2 separate regions of the Homo sapiens genome follow, and region 1 is linked to region 2. The links come from fine-mapping of genetic effects on gene expression. A gene starts in region 2. The other region holds a variant in brackets. All regions are shown on one strand. Distances are from middle to middle. Region 1 has its middle 31 kb from the start of LIRIL2R. Region 2 holds the start of LINC03066 (long intergenic non-protein coding RNA 3066).

What was found.
Region 1: its variant is fine-mapped to the expression of LINC03066 in hippocampus (GTEx, PIP 0.98). The same link has a PIP of 0.9 or more in cerebellar hemisphere.

The regions. Positions count from the first base shown.
Region 1 is chr6:144,020-154,011 of GRCh38, reverse strand. It overlaps the pseudogene SEPTIN14P6 and the pseudogene CICP18. Among named protein-coding and RNA genes, the nearest start is that of LIRIL2R, 31 kb to the left of the region's middle. The variant G/TG (reference allele first, on the strand shown) is at 5,504.
Region 2 is chr6:200,712-210,703 of GRCh38, reverse strand. It overlaps LINC03066 (long intergenic non-protein coding RNA 3066), which reads left to right and starts at 5,220. Exons shown (of 8, transcript NR_126020.1): 1 at 5,220-5,817. RefSeq lists enhancers at 433-632, 1,444-1,493.

The DNA of each region.
Region 1 (9,992 bases), 57 kb after region 2:
CCATGTTGTCCCTCTCTCAATGACTCAGCTCTTCCATTATACCATGAAAGTAGCCAGAGACATTGTATAACACATGTATGTGGCTGTGTCCCATTACAACTTTACTTACAAACGCAGACTGTGTCAGACCTGGCCCATGCATGGTAGTTTGCCACACCCTGTTTTAGAAAGCTCAGGTTTATGATGTGATGGAGAATGCCTACAAGAGCTCTTGTTTTAAATGGTAGAGTGAACATACACTGGAATTCTATCCTGCTTGACCCAAGCTCTTGATAGCGAAAGGTAGAAAAGATAGATGGTAAATAGATAGATAGATGATAGATAAAGAAAATACATAGCTGTTCCAGAAAACAGAAATGGATAACTTCATGAACCAAAAGCAGAGTAATATACTTTAGAAAGGGAGCAGGCTGGAAAACTCACAGTTGCAAAGCAAATAGAATTTCCAACTGCCTCTTGTAGCCCCTTCCTGGAAGTAGTCACAACCCAGGGTGTTTCGACTTCTTCCCCTGTTTTTTGTTTGTTTGCTGTTTGCTTTTTTGTGGGTTTTTGTTGTTGTTGTTTGCTTTTTTAAAAAAAATTCCCTTTCCCTGCTTTTTTGTCACAGCAGTCTTTGTCACTTCAAACACCACAAGTTTTCTTTTTCAAAAAATTATATCAACCTTTCAATTAAAATGCAACATGTCTGAAACTTGATATCTAGAGAGGTGATATGGACAAAGGAGCCCTTGTTACTGCACGTTTCTGTTCTCCAGACTTCACCTTGCACACAAGAACAGACAATGCACAAAACCACTTCCTTATGGACTGAAATTCTGAAATCCTTTTATGACTGGCGTTTCCTAACCCTTCAACTTCCCCTCTCCCATGCTGTGAATGATTGTATTGGACATTTTTGTTTTAATCTCAGTGACAGGGGAACACAGGTAGCTCTAATATAGCTGTGACCCAGATGCTTCTGTTTCTACCATGTATTTATTTTGTAGCAAACATTTACATCCATCGTTTTTCACTGTCTTTTGAAAATAATTAGGGAATATCTCATCTGAGGTAGGATGTTTCTAGTGGTTGTGTTCTGAAGGAGGAAAAACTAATCTGTTCTCTTTCCACTGCATTCCAGGAACAGTGAGAGGACCTTGTGCATGAATAATTTGTTTCCACACTACAGAGTGGGTAATAAGCAGATTAGTAAAAACAATTCTGCTTCACTTCAATAACAGCCTCCTCCAACTCATTTTTTCTCAACAAACTTATTTTTCCAGCAGAATAATCCCAGACTTCTTAAGAGAACCCAGTGACTTTTCGCACCTTAAATCTGTGAAATCCTGTTTTCTTACGCCATATGCATAGTTCAAACATACAAAGATGATGCAAAGCCAGACGCATTCCTGAAGGAGCCTAAGAAATTCCTCTCTTTCTGTCTCTGGAATGAAATGAATTCTCTAGACCATCAGTTCTAACCTTCAGAAACCAAACCTGTTTGTGAGATCTCCTTCAAATGCTACTGTAGACTCCAGTGTTTATTCATTAAATTTTTAAAGTATTTGTTTTATTTGGAATCAGTTTATTTGTAATTTTAGTATTTGTATTAATACAAGGGAGAAATGTTTAAGTCTGTCTATGCCATATATGCCTCTGGCTTATTGCCCAATTAATTGTAGCCTCAGGCTAAACTTTGGTTTCTGTTTTTATTTTTTTCAGGACAAATATAACTGATCTCAAAACATCTGCTTTTATTGTAGGGGCTTGTGCTGCCATCTCCATTCCTCTCTCTTTTCTTGCAATCTGGGTGGAAGTTCTTTAATATGAACATTTCAACCACCTTCATTCTACCATGTCCACTATCAGCACATTCAAGCTTATCCAGCCAAGGCTGTCATCTTAGGCCAGGGATTTTTTAGGAATCTATTTTGCTGTGATGCAGCTGGTACCCCTTTGATTCACTTTATCACTCCAGGGTTTTTTTTCATTTTAGGAGCCCAAGAAGGCAGAAAAAGAAGTAGGTGAGCAATTAAACCCTCTGAGTAGGAGCGTCTCCCCTTGCGTTAAACAATGTTGTAGAACATCGTATTTAGTAAGCTCCTAGCAGATGAGCCACGTGGCTGCTGTGCACACACGCCTGCTTGCTGCTGTGAGCTCAGACACCATCATTAGTCTTTTGCATCTCTGGAGGGAATTATAAGGACCACTTAATAACCTGTGAATCATAGAGAGTTAAAGGTGTTTCCCCAAAACACTGATGACAGAATGAAAGGTGAGGAGTGTTAGCCACAGGTCAAAAGTGCAAGAAAGTCTCTCAATGTGGGTTGTTGAAGAAATGCAGGTCTTTTTTCTTTTGGAAGTCTCCCTAGAATGGGGTCAAGGACTCTGCCCATTCTAGGATGAAAAACTGGGATATTAGACACCCTCAGTTATTTATTCCAAGCCTTCATTTTGGGCTCTTAATTAGTTTATTCAACCATCACAATCTCAAATGCTAGCAAAGCTGAGAACTCAGTTTTGAAATTTACTCTTGGGTCCCCTCAGCCAAGAGTGGGTCTGTTCAGTCAGTTGGGAGCTTAGGATTTCATTTTCATTTATCATTGCTAATGGGAAAGAGTACGCTGTCTTCATGGCAGCTGAATTTGCAAGAAACTCCTTGGATGGGGTTAATGGCAGCTGTATTTTTCTGGGAGCTCTGCTTTAACTGGATAAAGTAAGTTCTGCTAAGATTTCTTCCTTTATCTTCAGTATCTCAAATGCTTTCATTTAAATAATCTTTATAACAACTTTTGATGTCTGAGTGGATTCCCACACAGTCATCTATTGTAAGACTTTCTGATTCCTTTTTTTTCCTTTGTTCATTATGAATAAGGCTTCTGTAAATAATTGCATGGTAGCTTTTGTTTGGAAATAGCATCAAAGTAGTTGTCAAAATACTTAGGAATGTGATTTTTGGATTGTAAGGTGAAACTTGTTTAGCTTTGGAAAAAAGTGCCCAACTTGTAATAGGGGAGGAAAAATAATTTTCTATGTTTTTGGAATTCTGAGATGGGACCCTCTGTAAAAACTGACAGATTAAAATGAGAAAAACAGAAAAGTTTAAAAACATGTATACCTTATGGATACATGGGAGATACTCAGGGCAAAATGAGTAAATCTCCAACAGGTGGCTTTCAATTCAAGCATAAATACTATGTTGAACTTAAAGAAAGAAGATTTGAGGTGCAGTAGTGGGGAGTTAGCCAGCAAAAGCACAGTAGACAAGGGTAAGGTTTGTTATACAGACTTAAGTCCATGCAGTCTCCATTGATAAGACTCTTTAGTGATTTAGTTATCCTTCTCTTCTTGGTGTTGAGAGAGGTAGCTTTTGAATGGGGATTTCCTTTATAGATGTAAATTTCCCTTACACAAGGGTAACTTCTACTCTGTTTTCAGAACTTCCTTTGTTAGCATTTTTTTTTTTCAAAATAATCAGCTTGGAATAATTCTTAAGCAAAAGGGACATATTTTGGGGTGGCATATTCTGGTTTCCTACCATTATATTTTGGGGTGGCATATTTTGGTCTTATACACTGTGTTCCACCGGCAATGAAAAGAGTTCTTGTTTTTCCTCCAGCAATTTGTCATTTTTTAAAGAGTTTAGCAGTTCTAAGAGATGCAGACCAGCTGTGCTATCTCATTGTGGTTTTCAGTTCTCTAGCATGTTGAGCATGTTTTTGTATGTTTACCTGCCATCTGTAGATCTTCCTTGGTAAGATGTCTGTTGAGATCTGTGTGCCTTTTTAATTGGGCTGTTTAACTTATTGTTTAGTTTTAAGAATTTTTAAATATATTTTGAATACAAATTCTCAGATCTGTATTTTGCAAATATTTTCTTCAATATGTGGCTTGTCTTTTTGTTATCTTAACAAGGTCTTCTCCAGAGTATAAACTTTAAATATTAAGAAATCCACATTGTCATTTCTTCTGTGTATATCAACCTTTTGTGTCATTTGTTAAAATTCATTACCAAACCCAAAGGCACATAGCTTTTCTTCTATAGATTCTTCTAGAAATGGTATAGTTTTGCATTTTTAGTGTAAGGATGATTTTGAGTGATTATTTGTGTAAGTTGTAAAGTTTTCATCTACATGCATATCATTTCCTATGGTTTCCAATTAATCCTTCCATCACTATTTTTGGGAAACACACAGGATAGTGGGCTCTGTTAGAGGAGATAGATAGCTAGACATGAACAGGAGGGGGAGCTCCTGGAAAAGGGAAAGTCTGAGAAGGCTCACCTGGAGGGACCACCAAAAATGCACATATTAGTAGCATCTCTAGTGCTGGAGTGGATGGGCACTTGTCAGTTGTGGGTAGGAGTGCGAAGAGGTACCTATGCAGAAAGAAAAACCCTAGAACTCTCTTTAAGATGCCCCAACCATCATTCACTCTGCAATAAAAATGTCAGAATATTGGTAGCTACATGCTGATAAGAAGGACAAAGGGGACATTCTTAAGAGAAACCTGGCACCCTAAGTGCAGATTAGGGCAAAGAAGGACATTCAAAAGAGATAGGCAGGCACACTGGGTACAAACGTGACCGCTGTCAGCCTGCCTGGGATGGCGGGAAGGAGGCTGGTGCCAGAGTGGATTCGGATTGATCACCACACATGTACCTCAACCAACAGTGAGGAGGTCCCACAAGCCTAAGTGTGGCAAGTCGGGGACCTAAGGCAGTAGCAGGAAAACCAGACAAAGAGAACAGGTGGAGACTTGAGACAGAGGCAGGAATGTGAAGAAGTCCAAAATAAAATTCCCTGCACAGGACTCCTAGGATGTTTTCATGCACGATCAGCCCACTCCTCCCTATTTTTCTACAATGAGCTCTTTACACTGTATTTCTTTTCAATGAAGTTGTCTCCCATTTTTGTACTGCCTCTTGGTGAAAATCTTTCTTCCAAGTTAGACAAGAACTGGGACATCAGCTCTCCCTAGTACTAGCTCCGTTTCAGTTGAATTTACAGAACTGATGGGGCTTAAAAACTGATGCTCTGACTTTAAGTGGTGCAGGAGGCAGCCAGTAGGGGACGCCAACCGTCACACTGGGAGCAAGAGAGCCCTGCCTAGTCCCCATCTGCCTGCAGGTGGCGTGCTGCCTCGACACTGCCACCAAGAGGGCCAGGCAGTGTCTCCAGCTGCCAGCAGGTGGCGTACGACGACTACACTGTGAGCAACAGGGCCCTGCAGTGTCCTTAGCTGCCAGCAGGTGTCATACGGGCACCACACCATGAGCAAGAGGACCCCGCAGTGCCCTGGTTGCCAACAGGGGGCGTGCTGCCACTACACTGTGAGCGAGAGGTTCCTGTAGTGCCCCCAGGGGCCAGAAGAGGGCGTGCCCCCACTGCACTGCAAGCAAGAGGGCCCGGCAGTGTCCCCAGCTGCCAGCAGGGGGGTGTGCTGCCACCACACTGTGAGCAAGAGGACCCTGCAATGTCCCTAGCTGCCACCAGGCGGCGTGCAGCCGCTATACTGTGAGCAA[G/TG]AGGGCCCTGCATTGCCCCGGCGCCAGCAGGGGGCGCTGGCCACCACTATAAGCAACAGAGCCCTGCAGCTGCCCTAGTCGCCAGCAGGGGGCGCACTGGCACAGCACCGTGACCAAGCGGGTCCTGTAGTGCCCAGCTGCAAGCAGGGGGCGGTCGAGCCCGGCTTTTCGAATTACTGAGGTTCCACCCGTCTCCGCGCCTGCACCGCGCCCCACCCCCAGCACAGGGGCGTGCGACTGTGCTCCTGCACCACGCCACCCCAACCCCCGCCCGGCGGCGTGCTCTCTGCGCATCCACCGCGCCTCCCGCGCGCACGTCGCGTCAGTCTGTGCGTGCCCGCGCCGGCGCGGGGTGCCTTTGCGGGGGCAGAGCTGCGTTCTGCTTAACACAGACCCGGGGGACACCAAAAACGCGGAGCAGCTTTCTCAGCACACACCTTGGGGGCACGGCCTCGCTTTGGGACAACTCAGGGCAGCATCGACGGTGAACAAAATCCTTTCTGTTTGCAGCCCTGAATAATCAGGGTTAGGGTTAGGGTTAGGGGTTAGGGTAGGGTTAGGGTTAGGATTAGGGGTTAGGGTTAGGGTTAGGGTTAGGGTTTAGGGTTAGGGTTAGGGTTAGGGTTAGGGTTAGGGTTATTGGTTAGGGTTAGGGTTAGGGGTTAGGGTTAGGAGTTAGGGTTAGGGGTTAGGGTTAGGGTTCAGGTTCGGGGTTCGGGTTGGGGTTGGGTTTGGGGTTAGGGTTAGGGTTAGGTTTTGGGGTTAGGGTTAGGGTTTGGAGTTAGGGGTTAGGGTTAGGGGTTACCGTTAGGGTTAGTGTAGGGGTTAGGGGTTAGGCTTAGTGGTTAGGGTTAGGGTTAGGCTTAGGGTTAGATTACAATTTCTAACCTGTTTTATTTTGTTTTTTTTCTGAGACAGGGTCTCCCTCTTTTGTCCAAGGCTGGAGTGTGGTAGTGCTATCACAGCTGACTGCAGCCTCAACCTTCCAGGCTGAAGCGATCCTCCCATCTCAATCTCCTACGTGGCTGAGACTACAGGTGCTTGCCACTATGCCCAACTAACATTTGGAATTTTCGTATACGTGGATTCTAGAGGGGTGACAGCGAAACGTGAGTAAGCATGGATTTTGGTATATGCAGAGATGGGGGGCTGGAACTAATTCTGTATACTGAGGGATGACGACTGTATATGTTTTTACAATTACGCTGTAGGATACATACTGTTGCATAGCCTTGAAAATAATAATTTTTAATTGAGTGGAATAATAATAATATTGATAAAAGTAGCAGCTGGCCAGGTGTGGTGGCTCACACTGGTAATCGCAACACTTTGGGAGGCTGAGGCAGGAGGATGGCTTGAGGCCAAGAGTTTGCGATAGGCCTTGGAAACAAAGGGAGTCACCATCCCTATAGAAAAATACATGAATTAGCCTAGTGTGGTGGCATGTTCCTGTAGTCCCAGCTACTTGGGAGGCTGAGGTGGGAGGATCACTTGAGCCCAGGGAGGCTGAGACTGCAGTGAGTCATGATCAGGCCTCTGCACTCCAGCCTGGGTGACAGAGTGAGACCCTGTCTCTAAACAACAAAAAAGTAGCAGCTAACATCAACTGACCTTTTACCGGGTGCCTATGGATACCATAGTTTAATTTCTTATAACTGTTTCTTATTTTACTTACCAACTCTGTCTTCAGTTACTCCCAGATTTTTACTGTGTGTGTACAGATGACCTTTTGGAGGAGCCTCAACAGGCACAGCTCCTCCCTCATAGTGGCCCATTTAGGCCCAACTCATGACTGTCGGGCTATTTCCAGGCCTAGTGTCTGCCTCGTGGCTGACTGTTGAAGCCCAAAACTTCCTCAAATCAGCCTTTTGCCCAACTTCTGTCTACTGTCGGACTCTACAGGCCAGCCTCTGCCTCACAGTGGACCCTCCAGACCCAGATGGTGTCTCACTGTGGCATCCTCAGGCGAAGCTCCTGCCTTTTGGCAGCCTCTCCGGGCCCAGCTCCTCCTGCCTCCCAGTGGCCTCTTTCGGCCCAGCCCAGCTCATGGCTCTCGGCGGCCTTCCCAGGCCCCGCTTTTGACTTTTGGCAGCCTCTTCAGGCGCAGAACTTGATCTCCAGTCGGCCTTTGCAGGCCCGGCCTCCTGCCTCTCGAAGGCCTGCACGGGCCTGGCCTCGGCCTTGGCCTCACAGCGGACTCTCCACGCCCAGCTAGCTCTCGCCTCACTGAGGCCTCCCCAGTCCAAAGCTCCTGCCTTTCGGCCACTTCGGCAGGTCCAGCTCCTGCCTGCCAGTGGCCTCTTTAGGCCCAGCTCATTCCTCACGTCGGCCATTCCAGGCCCCGTTTTTCCCTTCCGGCAGCCTCTTGGCCTCTAATTTGTTTATCTTTTGTGTATAAATCCCAAAATATTGAATTTTGGAATATTTCCACCATTATATATTTTGGTAGGTAATTTATTTGGAGTGAGTTTCTGCCCATGCCCGAATTTTTTATTTTATTTTCCTTATTATTTGGTGTTAAACAGGTTTAATGACGGTCATGGCAACTTTTTGGCACAATGAAAAATATCGCCCATGATCAACGTGTTCTGTTCTGGGGAAGGGGGCAAAGGCAGGGTGAATCACTTTCTTAAAAAGTATAGCTCAAGTTGGGAGTGCAGAGGGAATGGGGAGAAAACCCTCCCGCTGCCTGTGTCGAAGTGCAGGAGCCCCCACCCCCATACTCACCTGAGTCCAGCCCCTCTGGGGAAAGAAGGGGTGCATGAACTCCCCCTAGTCCACAGGCGCCTCCCTGTGGCCCAAGGCCCTCTTCACACTCCATCTTGTAGCCCCAGCAGGAGCTATTTTCCGAAAAGTGAAAAGCTCTGAAGGTCCCACAATTCATGGTATGTACAGGGGCTCGGAGGAGGGAAATTGCCCAGCTTTCCCCCGGCACAGCTGCAGGGTTAGGGGGTATAGATAAGAGGAGCAGGCCTTGGCCAGGCGTGGTGGCTCACGCCTGTAATCCCAGCACTTTGGGAGGGGGAGGCAGGCAGATCACGACGTCAGGAGATCGAAATCAGCCTGGCCAAGATGATGAAGCCCCGTCTGTACTAAAAATACAAAAATTAGCCGGACGTGGTAGCGTCTACCTGTAATCCTAGCTACCCGGAAGGCTGAGGCAGGAGAATGGCGTGAACCCGGCGGGAAGAGGTTGCAGTGAGCCAAGATCGCACCACTGCACTCCAGCCTGGGCGACAGAGCAAGACTCGGTCTCAAAAAAAAAAAAAAAAAAAAAAAGAGGAAGGCCTTACTCCGTCCCAAACTGAAAGGATTAAATGGCTTCACCTGGGAGAAGATAACCATCCTGCCCTCCATTGCTACCCCCACATACTGTCCATGTTCTCAGGGGGTACTGTGAGTCCTGGGATCTTTGGGGTTGCCCACCTGCCTGTGGTAGTTATGGAGACCCCCAGGTGTTGAGGCAGGGCTGGGGTGTCCCCTTCCAACCAGGCTGTCAAGGCCCCAACTCTGGGGCAGAGGCAGTGGCAGGGCAGCCAGGTTTGTGCCAGAGCCTGAGCAGGTTGAGGTGGGGTCAGGCAGGGCTGGGAGTCAGGGCAGGGGCAGCAGCAGTGGACCCGCTATGCACACATCTTCTTCTCCAAGGTTTGTGTGCAGAACATCCTGCCCATGCTGACCCAGCAGCTTCAGTTGGCACCTGCCCCAGTCCAGCCTCTGGGAACCATGCAGCAGCTCCCAGCGGCCCTGCACCCACCACCAGCATCCGTTTCACCTGCAGTTGAAGATCCGTGAGGTGCCCAGAAGATCATGCAGTCATCAGTCCCACGGAGCAGCCCGCGAGGCTGAGGCTCCTCCCACTGGACCGCCCCCCAACTGGCACCACTGCTGCCCCTGCCCCTACTCTCAGCCTCACGTGACTCTCGGGCAGAGGCAGTGGTGGGGCAGCCAGGGCAGCGTCAAGAGTCTGAGCCAGGTGAGGTGCGGTCAGGACCCCCACAGGGCTGGGAGTCAGGGCAGGGGCAGAACAAACCTTGGAGGGGAAGATGTGTGCATAGTGGGCCTGGAGGGCGGCTGTGGCCTAGTGGACAGGAAGAAGCAGTGGGCCTGGAAGAGCTGCATGATCAGGGCCGGCACTGGTCCAGGGCACGTGCAGTGAAGAGGACAGCTCCTTCTCGGTCTCCGGTTCCCTGAGCCTGTCCTCGGCTTCTCCACCTGTACAGGCAAAGGGGAAGCTGTCCCCATCACACATGGCACACTTGGGGGTGTTGGGCTTTGGACTGCAGCTGGAACATCTTCTCATCTTGCATTTGGGCGTGGTGGGGTCCTCCAGTGTGGGATCCATGTCCGTGGGGTTCCCTCTGCCCCGACCCCTAAAGCCCAGTCAGTTTCTCTTCAGGCTCTGCTCCCCGGGTGGCTCAGCCCAGCTCCTGCCTAGGAAAGCCTTAGTGTTGGGAGGGACCCTGATGACTGAGGAGCCTGGTAGCTCCAG
Region 2 (9,992 bases):
AGGAGACTCTCCACACATTCCAGGCACTTAGAGAAATGGGAAACGGCGCAGGGTGGGTGGAGAAAAGGAGAAACGAACATGTTCAAAGGATCCGCTCACTTTTCTATATCGCTAACAGGTCAAGCCATTTGTTTGAGCAGAGGCATTTTGGGGTCTATGATAAGCAGAGTGAGGGCCCGAGTTGAAGACAGTGGGAGACTGAGGGAGGAGAGGAAGGGCATCTTAAGGCAGGGGGCCCCCGGGCCAGGGCCCCCCAGGGAAAGCCTGGGCAGTGTGTGACTCGGCCTCTGAGCCGTCCACTGCGAGAGCCTCTCAGCTGAATCCTTGATATTTTGCAACACACGTAATATCATGGCCAATGGTCTGAGGGTGTGGGATTCACTCAAGCTGGGGGTGACTTCCACATTTGGGTGTGTGTAGAGGATGAGGACAGACTGGGAGCCAAGACCCCAGGAAGTCTGTCATGCAGGGAGCACAGGTGTGGGCACCTCGGCCCCTGAGGGTCCCTCCCGACATCTGGAGTATAAGGAACCCAGCATGAAACAAACCTCAGGAACCAGGGAGACCTTGGCCGCACTTGGGCCTTCAATACATGAATGTGGAAGAGCCTCGTACCATTCAATTATTACTCACATGAAGCAACTGCTGCGCTGTCGTTGCTGTTTTTGCTTGTACCTGTCCCGCCCCTCCCCCAGCAAAGTCAGTTAGAAGCAGACGCTGCTCAGTAACCAGTGGTACTTTCATTATTGATGGCTTGGTTTCATGCTATCTGTGATCTCCTTCCCTTTCTCTTTTTACTGATCTCACCGGTATTTGAAAATTGGTACACGATGTAGCTGACTACACCGTAGTCAATTTTTTGATTTCCCCATCCACCAAGAAACGCTCCCTTACGGGTCAAAAAGCAATTCCCCGGCTCTCTTCCCTTTTCCTGCGCACCGGCAGGCAGCCTTTCCTGCTGGTCCCAGTGCTTCTCGGAGGGCACCATCACGCGCCGCCCTGGCCTCGCCCACGCAGGGCTCTGGAACGGCCCTGTGGCTGAGGCCAAGGGCACCCCTCCAATGCCCACTGCCCTGCTGATATCCCCGACACCGCCCACCTCTCCACCTTCCACGCTGCTCCGCCCTCCTCCGCCACACACACTCCAAACCTGCAGTATTCTGAGAAACGCTGATTCACGTGTCAATGGGGGGTATAGGAAGAGAGATGAAGATAGTCAAGTTTCCATTCTCAAAATTCTCAAAATTCAAAGGAAAACACCATTGAGGTAGCTTATGATTATTGGCACCTTACAGACTGGGAAACTGAGGCTCCTTCTGCCAAGGACGAGGGGCAGGAGGAACCAAAGGTCTGCAGAGAAGACAGAAAGCTGCCAGCGCCTCTCCAGGGCCTTGATGGGGAGCTGGTGCTCGGCCCCAGCAGCCCTGGGGCAATCTCTAAAGCAGAGAAAGAGAGGTGCTTCATGAAGAGGTCTTGGGCTTTCTTTAGAATTCAGCCCTTCCCCTTTCTTCTTCCTAGGGGACTCCCAGCATAGTTTACCCTGGGAGCCCTGACTGTGTTGCAACGGGCTCAGGGTAGAGACCCGGTGACATGGAACCAGCCAGGCAGCAACCTATGCCTGCAAGTGAGTGTGGAGAAGAAGGAGGTGCAGGATCTGCCGCAAGGAGGGGCGCTCAGCATCAGTCTTGTGAAGTCATCAGTGTGCTCCGCTGTCCATGTAGCAGCAGTTACACCAGCCAAAGAGAGAAACAAAGTCAGGGCATGTGTACGTGCCCCGGTGCCCTTTTGGTTTCCGTTAGGCACCTTGCTCAATTTCCTGATAAACAAAACAGAGCCATCTGTGACTCTTCCAGCACACCTCCACTTTTAGGGAATTTTTAGGGATTTTAGGTCCCAGAGAGGAGAAACAGAACAGGGGAAGAAGTGCCCGATCGGTGTTAGGGGCCATGGTTCGAGGTCCTGCTTGTGTGACCTTCAGCAAGTTACCTTCCCTGTTTGCTTCCATTTCCACACCTGTGCAACAGGGCTGCGCTCTGTCTGAGAGACTAGAGGGTCACGTCGGATCATGAATAGCGTTTGGAACTGCTAAACACGCATTCAGTAATCTCATTTGTCAAGGATGGGAGCTCAGACCACAGGGCCTGTCTGAGACACAGCTGGGAAGTTTTTTTCTAGTTTCCCTTTTCTGAAAATCTGCTCCCACTCGGTGGTTTCTCCTGCCTACCACTGGCACCCAGCGTCTGGATATGTTGCCTACTGCACTGCCTACCAAGAACGCGTCAACGTTATCCCCATGTTGTGTGAGAGCAGGAAAAGAGGGTCTCCATCTTCGAGCTGAAGAGTCTTTCCCAGAGTGGATGTGCAGCCACCACCTGCCCAGGGGGTATTTTCCCAGAGCATCATTTCTACTCTACAAAGAATTTTAAATTTTGTGGGGTTTATTTTGTTTGTTTGTTTGTTTGTTTTTTGAGATGAAGTCTTGTTCTGTTGCCCAGGCTGGAGTGCAGTGGTGTGATCTCGGCTCACTGCAACCTCCGCCTACTGGGTTCAAGTGATTCTCCTGCCTCAGCCTCCCGAGTAGCTGGGATTAAAAGCATGGGCCATCAGGCCTGGCTAATTTTTGTATTTTCAGTAGAGACGGGGTTTCACCATGTTGCCCAGGCTGGTCTCGAACTCCTGGCCTCAGGTGATCTGCCTACCTTAGCCTCACAAAGTGCTGAGATTACAAGCATGAGCCACTGCACCTGGCCAAATTTTGTTTTTATATTTAAAAATACCTGGACATATGGCCAGGAGCAGTGGCTCATGCCTGTAATCCCAGCACTTTGGGATGCTGAGGCGGGTAGATCATTTGAGGTCAGGAGTTCAAGACCAGCCTGGGCAACATGGTGAAACCCCATCTCTACTGAAAATACAAAAATTAGCTGACTGTGATGGTGGGTGCCTGTAATCTCAGGTACTCAGGAGGCTGAGGCAGGAGAATCACTTAATCCGGGAGGTGGAGGTTGCAGTGAGCCAAAATCATGCCACTGCGTGATCTGTCCAGCCTGAGCGACAGAACAAAACTCTGTCTAAAAACAAAAACAAAAAACCTGGACATACCAGAAAATAAAATGCAGAGGTCATTAACATTTTTAGCTTTTCTTTTCTTTTTTTTTTTTAAGGAACCTTAAAGAAATGCTTGTGTTTAAGACAAACAGGCACTCCACATGATTCCCCTAAGCTCTGACGATGTTTATTTGGGTACAGCCTCCTCAGTTTATTTGCCTGGGGAGGAAACTAAGGCCCAGAGAAGTGAAGAGACTCTCCCTCCTCATGGCTCTGTCCTCTGCGAGGAAGAAGCATGGACGTTGCTGTCACTTTGTCTCCAACGCACCCTCAGTGCCTAGAACAGTGACTGGTACCACTCCCTGGCATCACTCACTAAGTGCAGGTTGAGTGTCCCTTATTTGAAATACTTGGAACCAGAAGTGTTTCAGATTTCAAATTTTTTTTGATTTTGGAATATTTGCAGAATTCATTCTGGCTGAGCATCCCTAATCTGATATCCAACATCCAAAACGCTCCAGTGAGTGCCTTCTTTAAGGGTCGTTTTGGTACTAAAACAGTTTTGGAGCATTTTGTATTTTTGGATTAGGGATGCTTAACCTGTATTTACTGAATAACTCAATTAATTTTAAGAGGCGAAAGGACCCATAAAGCCTCTGAGTTGCCTAGGAAGTGGCCACATTAACTCCAAGGATGAGGCGGACACCTTCTCGGGGCAGGATCGAACTGTTTCTGATCTTCAGCATCTGGCCCCATAAAATGAGAAGGGTTTTGCCTTGGGGTGAAACTGACCCTGGCATCTCCCTGGAGATGAAAAGCTCCTTATTTCCTAAAGATTCTTCTCAGAGCCAGAGGAAGTATGCTGAAATAGTCACAGTGATCATTTCTCATGAAGAGATATGAGTTTTACCCTCTTTTTAACTTTCTTCCTAATTTTTAAATAATAAGGTTGTATCACTCACAAAATAAGAATAACTTTATAGCACTCTGTATACATACATATATATGTGTATATATGTGTGTGTGTATGTATATATATATGTGTGTGTGTGTAAAGTCAGCAACAACAAGCCTTCCCCAAAGCGGCACACTGTCTGCATTTCTTCAGTGCCAACGTGAGGCACTTATGGGCATCCCCAGGGACTTGTGCGCCAGGCAGCTCCCATCGGCCCCGACGGCCAGTCCTGCCCACATGTGTGACATATATGGTGCTCCCAGACCTCCAAGGTTTGGTAAGAAAGAAAAACACTTGGACAACACACAGCCAGGCCGTGAACGTCACTTAGAAACGGGACCCATAAGAGCGACCTTCCCTGCTTCTCACGAGCCAGTGCATGCCCACACCAGTCCAGGCCTTTTCTTCTTCTACTGAGTGCTGCTTCCCGTCTCAGCTGATAGCACCACCACTCGTAGGTGAGTCCCTGTTCAACAGAACTCAGAGCTTTGCATCCATGGAGTGCCATGAACAAAAGTCACCGGTGTTTCTTAGGGAGAGAACTGCTTTTGCTCAGGGTCAGGATGCCCCACCTGCTTGGGGTGGGGAAGTTGAAGCTGGAGGAAGAGCTGGCTGCTCTGCAGAAGTTCAGAGGAATTGGAAGATGGGGCCAGGGAGGATGTGAGGAAGGGGAGGAAGGCAGAGACGGTGCAGGTGACTCAGCAGGAGGCTGGAGTCTAGAGGGAGAAGCTCCTTGACTGGGGTTGCTGAAGGGGTTTTAGAAATGAGGCTGTCAAAAAACATCACAGCTGCCTACTGCTTAATTTCTAGCTGACTCTGTGTTTCTAACCGTCTGTAGAGACTCCACACAGATAAAGCCCCTGTGCCACGGATTCTAGGGGGACGGGGCAAGAAGCCCAGTGCCAGGGTAGGAAGGAGGCCTTGGGAGGGGAGGCTGAAGAGTGAAAACTCAGGAGCAGATGCCGGGAGGCAGAAGTGACATCTGAACACACAGCCTCCGAGACAGTCCCTGGGTGGGAGACACTGAGGTTTCTGTTGTGCGCTGGATACGGCTTAAGCCTAATTTTACCTCAAATTTCAAAGGCCAGGGCGATCCAAGCTGATATTTGAGTTCCATTACCAGGCATATTCCTTACAACAAGAAGAATGTAAATTCTGTGGAAATTCTAGAACTTCTTTTTTACATTTAAACACAATTCCTTTGTTCCCATATCCTGAAATCAGTAAATTTAAGCAATTTTATTTTTCATTCTGTGCTTCAGGGATCTATGAGGGTCAACACATATTTATCACACGCTGACCTTGTGCTCAGGCCTATAGGAAAATGAACCTCCCTGCCCGCAATGACCTTAGAACCTAACTAAGGATATGGTTAAAACAAGCGCAGGATTGGGTGAGACCTGCTCAAGGGTCAGGCGCTGGTTTGTCGGGGAGAAATGTTGCCCAGGAAGGACAGGTGTGAAAGAAAGAGAAGATCCTGCAAGACCGGAGGGCCCAGGAAAGTCTGGGGGACTCAAAGGAGAGTTTCAGGATTGACCATGGGTGGACAGGGCTCTGCAGACCAGGATCTTTTCTATGCACACTTGGGGCCAGAAAGTTCTTTGTGGTGGGGGCTGTCCTGTACAATGCAGGAAGCTCAGCAGCATCCCTGGCCTCCACCCACTCAATGCCAGTGGCACTCCCTCCCTAGTTGTAAATGTGTGCAGACATTAGTACTTGTCACCTGCAGGGAAGAATCACCCCACTGAGAACCACATGCTGAGTCAAGGCAACAGCATAGGAATTGGAGCACGCAAGAGAGCTGGTCAACACAGGTGAGCTCTTGTGTGGGCCTCTCTATGGGCCTCCAGCCAGTCCCCAGACAACTCTGCTCTGGGCACCAGTGGCCACGTTCTCAGGGCAGGCACTACTGGTGATCATTCTACTCACACCTCTCTCTGGCATCAATGGCCTGATTACACACTGGGGATAGTAGGTAGTAGGTATATTTAGAGGGGCACAAAAATAACCGTGGCTGCCAAGCCAAAAAATTCAGAATTGCTCTCCTTAGTACAGGTTTAATATCGCTAATCTGACTTCAGAGTTTTGGATTAGGGATGCCAAACTGGTAAGTATAATGCAAAGATTCCAAAATCCAAAAAATCTGAAATACAAAACACTTCTGGTGGCAAGCATTTGGGACAACAAAGTGTGGTATATTTCTGATGAGATTTTGTCGTGTTTCAGAAAAATTAATTTGATAGTGATGTGCCCAATTGAATGCAAGGAAGGAGCAGGGTTTTCTGACCTGGTGATTGTGGATACGCCTCAGGAGGCTGATGACAATGAAACTGCGCCATCATTGTGTGGGTTCATTTGCTTTTCTGAGGAGGGATTCCATAGATTTCATCCGACACTCCACAGGTTGAGAGCTCTTGGATTCAACTGGTGCCCAAACACAAGACAGGACCACCAGTGCATATTTGAATAGGACAATCCTTCTGCCCATCCATCTGGTCCCTGCTTCCACTTCCCACAAGCAAACATCCAGTCCACAAAACTCATTGAGCAGCTGCAGTGAGCTGTGTGCCAAGCATGTGCCAGGGACTGGAGCTGCAAAGAGAGATGGAGGCCACAGGGAAGAGGCCACGAGATAGTCAGTTGTCTCATGAAGTAGAATACAGGTGAAGCCAGATTATCACAAGCCATGAAAACCTTCTGGAGGTGACGTCTGAGCTTTGTCTTGCCAGTTGATCTCGCTAGAATACATACGAAGTAAAGAGGGGCCTGGAATTGCTGGTGGCTGAGGAAATGGGAGAGGAAAAAGCATGCCGGACAGTCACGGTGCAGGAAGCCCTCATCACTACTAAGACTTACTGACTAATCGCACACGGGGGAAGGAAGCTTGGGTGGCCGTGAGTCAAGGATCCAAGCCTGGAAGCCTGCAGACAATACTGACTGGGGTTGGCAGCAGAAAGGGGAGGACGTTTTGAGTGGGAAGACAATGAGTTTTGGTTTTAGATATCTTGAGTTGAAGGCAATGAGAGGATACCCAGAGACTATTCAGAACATCTTGAGAGGAACTGGGAATACAGGACTGCTGCTGGGGACATGTCAGGGAAAGAGGTGGGCAGAGAGGAAATGGGTCTGTTTTCTCAGGGGCAGTGAGGGGCACCGTCGAGCCAGCCTTCCACAGCTCTGGTTTCTCTGGGCACTTTCTTTCATGGGCTTCTTTGTGGGTCACAGACATGTTCGGTGGGGAGAAAAATCTCAGTAGAGCAACCTTCATTAAAGTTTCGGGTTCCAGGTTTGAATGAGTAGTTGGGTGTTGAGCAGGATCCTTCCCCGGAGTGATGAGGGGGAAGGGATGTTCAAGCACTGGGTGGAGGGTAGGCACATTCTATGTTTTGATAGAACCTCCTAGTCACATTCACCCCCATTGTGATGCCAGCCAGTGGTCCTCAAAACGTAGTGTCCATGAGAACCACTGAGAGCTTGTTAGGAAAAGCCATCAGCTCAGCCCCACCTCCCTAGAGATTGTGATGTTTAGGTCTGAGGTGGACTCATATGGGTTGTGTTTGTTTGTTTACTTTTTACACAGTAAATTTGGCTTTGTGGAGGTCAGTGGTGGAGTGTGCGGGTTTTATGAATTCTAGCACAGGGAGTGGATTTGTGTAACCACCACAATGCATGCAGAAAAGTTCCACCAGCCCAACAAGCTCCCTTAGCTACCGATTTCTACTCACACCTGACCCCACCTCACTCCCTTGGTAAACACAGGGCTTTTCTCTGTCACTATTGGTTTTTTATTTTCAAGTCTGGAATTATACAGTGTGTAACATTCAAGCCTGGCTTCATTCACTTAGAATAATGCCTATGAGATTCATCTGAGTTATTGTCTGTATCAATGGTTTGTTCCTTTTTAGTGCTGAGTAGTGTTCCATGGTATGGATGGACCACAGTTTGTCAGTTACCCAGTTGAAGGACATCTGGGTCCTTCAAGGTTTTGGCAATTGGAATCTGCCTTTAAACAAGCCCACTAGATGATTCTGATGCAAATGGTCCCAGATCACACAGTGCCCTAGGTTGTGCACAAATGCGAATACTTTTAACTTTGGCTGATCTGATCAGTGGGAGTATCTTATTATCAGATTTGCATATTTCTGATCGTCAGGAGGGTTGAGAATTTTTTAAAATCCTTATTGGCCATTTATGATTCTTCTTTGAATTGCCTACTCTTATGGTAGCTACACCAGGCCAATCTGGTTCGACTTTTATGTAACAAAGTTGTGAGTTGTTGTTCAGTTGCCATGGACCCTCAGTTCACATAGCCTGAGCACACCCAGGTAAACAAAGTGTGCAGCCACAGGGCAAACCTAAGTGCTCAGACTGAGAGCCAGGGACTGAATTAAGAAGAGGACACTGCATGCCTGGATTCAGGATCCAGGATCCAATCGGATGGAGCTTTGGCCTCACCCCATGGCAAGATCCAGTCAGGTTGTGCCACCAGGCATCACCTCATTGCAATATCCAATCAGATCACATGTCATTACCCTTTGCTTATAAAACCTGACCTGGCCCTTGGCTTGGGCAGGTGCTGATTTGGGAGCTATCGCTGGTCTCCTTGCAAGTAGTAAAATTTCCCTGCTAAATCCTCTGCGGGTGGTTGTCCTCCACCAAGTGACCAAGCCCACCCATTGTGTGGATAACGATATCTTTTGCCTTGTATTTTTTTTTTTTTTTTTGGTAGCCAAATTGTTTTGTTTTTCATGGTGTCTTTTAGGAGCTCTTTTATGTTAAGGATCTTAACCCTTTGTTGTAAGTATTTTTTCACAGTCTGCTGTTTTTCTACTGTTTCTTGACCTGTTGAAAAATAACAAGCACGGCCCACTCTGACCAAAATTCCTAGAACCACAGCCTGCAGATGAGAGTCCAACAAAGGCTTAAGAATAGCATGATCTGTTTGGATGACTAAATTTTTGCCTGCTTGTTCAACAAGGTGTTCAATATAAACTCAACCTTAAAGGCACAGTCTGCTTTCAGCTGTATTCACTTTGGTTCTGTGAATCACAGGGTCCTTTACTTTTTATTGTTCCAGCTGTTTTCCTGTTTTGGGCAGAGCTGAAGATTGTTTTGATTGTTTATGAACCTAAAATTCAGAGAAATTTCAAACCCTTCACAGGCATGTTCTGACAGTAGATGGGAGGACTTTTCCTAATGTGAAGTCTCACTTTTTTTTTCCTAATCAGCTGTTAAAATAACCTTCAGTCAGCTGGGCATGGTGGCTCACACCTGTAATCCCAGCACTTTGGGAGGCCAAGGTGGGTGGATATGAGGTCAAGAGATAGAAACCATCCTGGTCAACATGGTGAAACCCCACCTCTACTAAAAATACAAAAATTAGCTGGGTGTGGTGGTGGGCACCTGTAGTCTCAGCTACTCAGGAGGCTGAGGTAGGAGAATCACTTGAATCCAGGAGACAGAGGTTGCAGTGAGCCCAGAACACACCACTGCACTCCATCTGCCTGGCAACAGAGCGAGACTCTGTCTCAAAAAAATAAAAATAAAAAAATAATAATAATTTCTCAACCTGGAAGACATAATATCTCATTTACCCAGCACATAAGTGCGTTTTTTAATTAAGAGACATGACTTGAGAAACAATGCATTCTTTTAAAAATTTGACTCATGGCTGGGAGTAGTGGTTCATATCTGTAATCCCAGCACTTTGGGAGGCCAAGATGGGCAGATCACTTGAGGCCAGGAGTTTGAGACCAGCCTGGCCAACATGGCAAAACGACATCTCTACTAAAATTAGCCAGGCATGATGGTGCATGCCTGTAATCCCAGCTACTCAGGAGATGGAGGCAAAAGAATCGCTTGAACACAGGAGACAGGTTTAGTGATAGTGCCAGTGCACTCCAGCCTGGGTGACAGAGGGAGACTCTGTCTCAAAAAAAAAAAAAAAGAAATTTAATTTATTTTGATGGTATTCTTTCTAAAGTGCTTT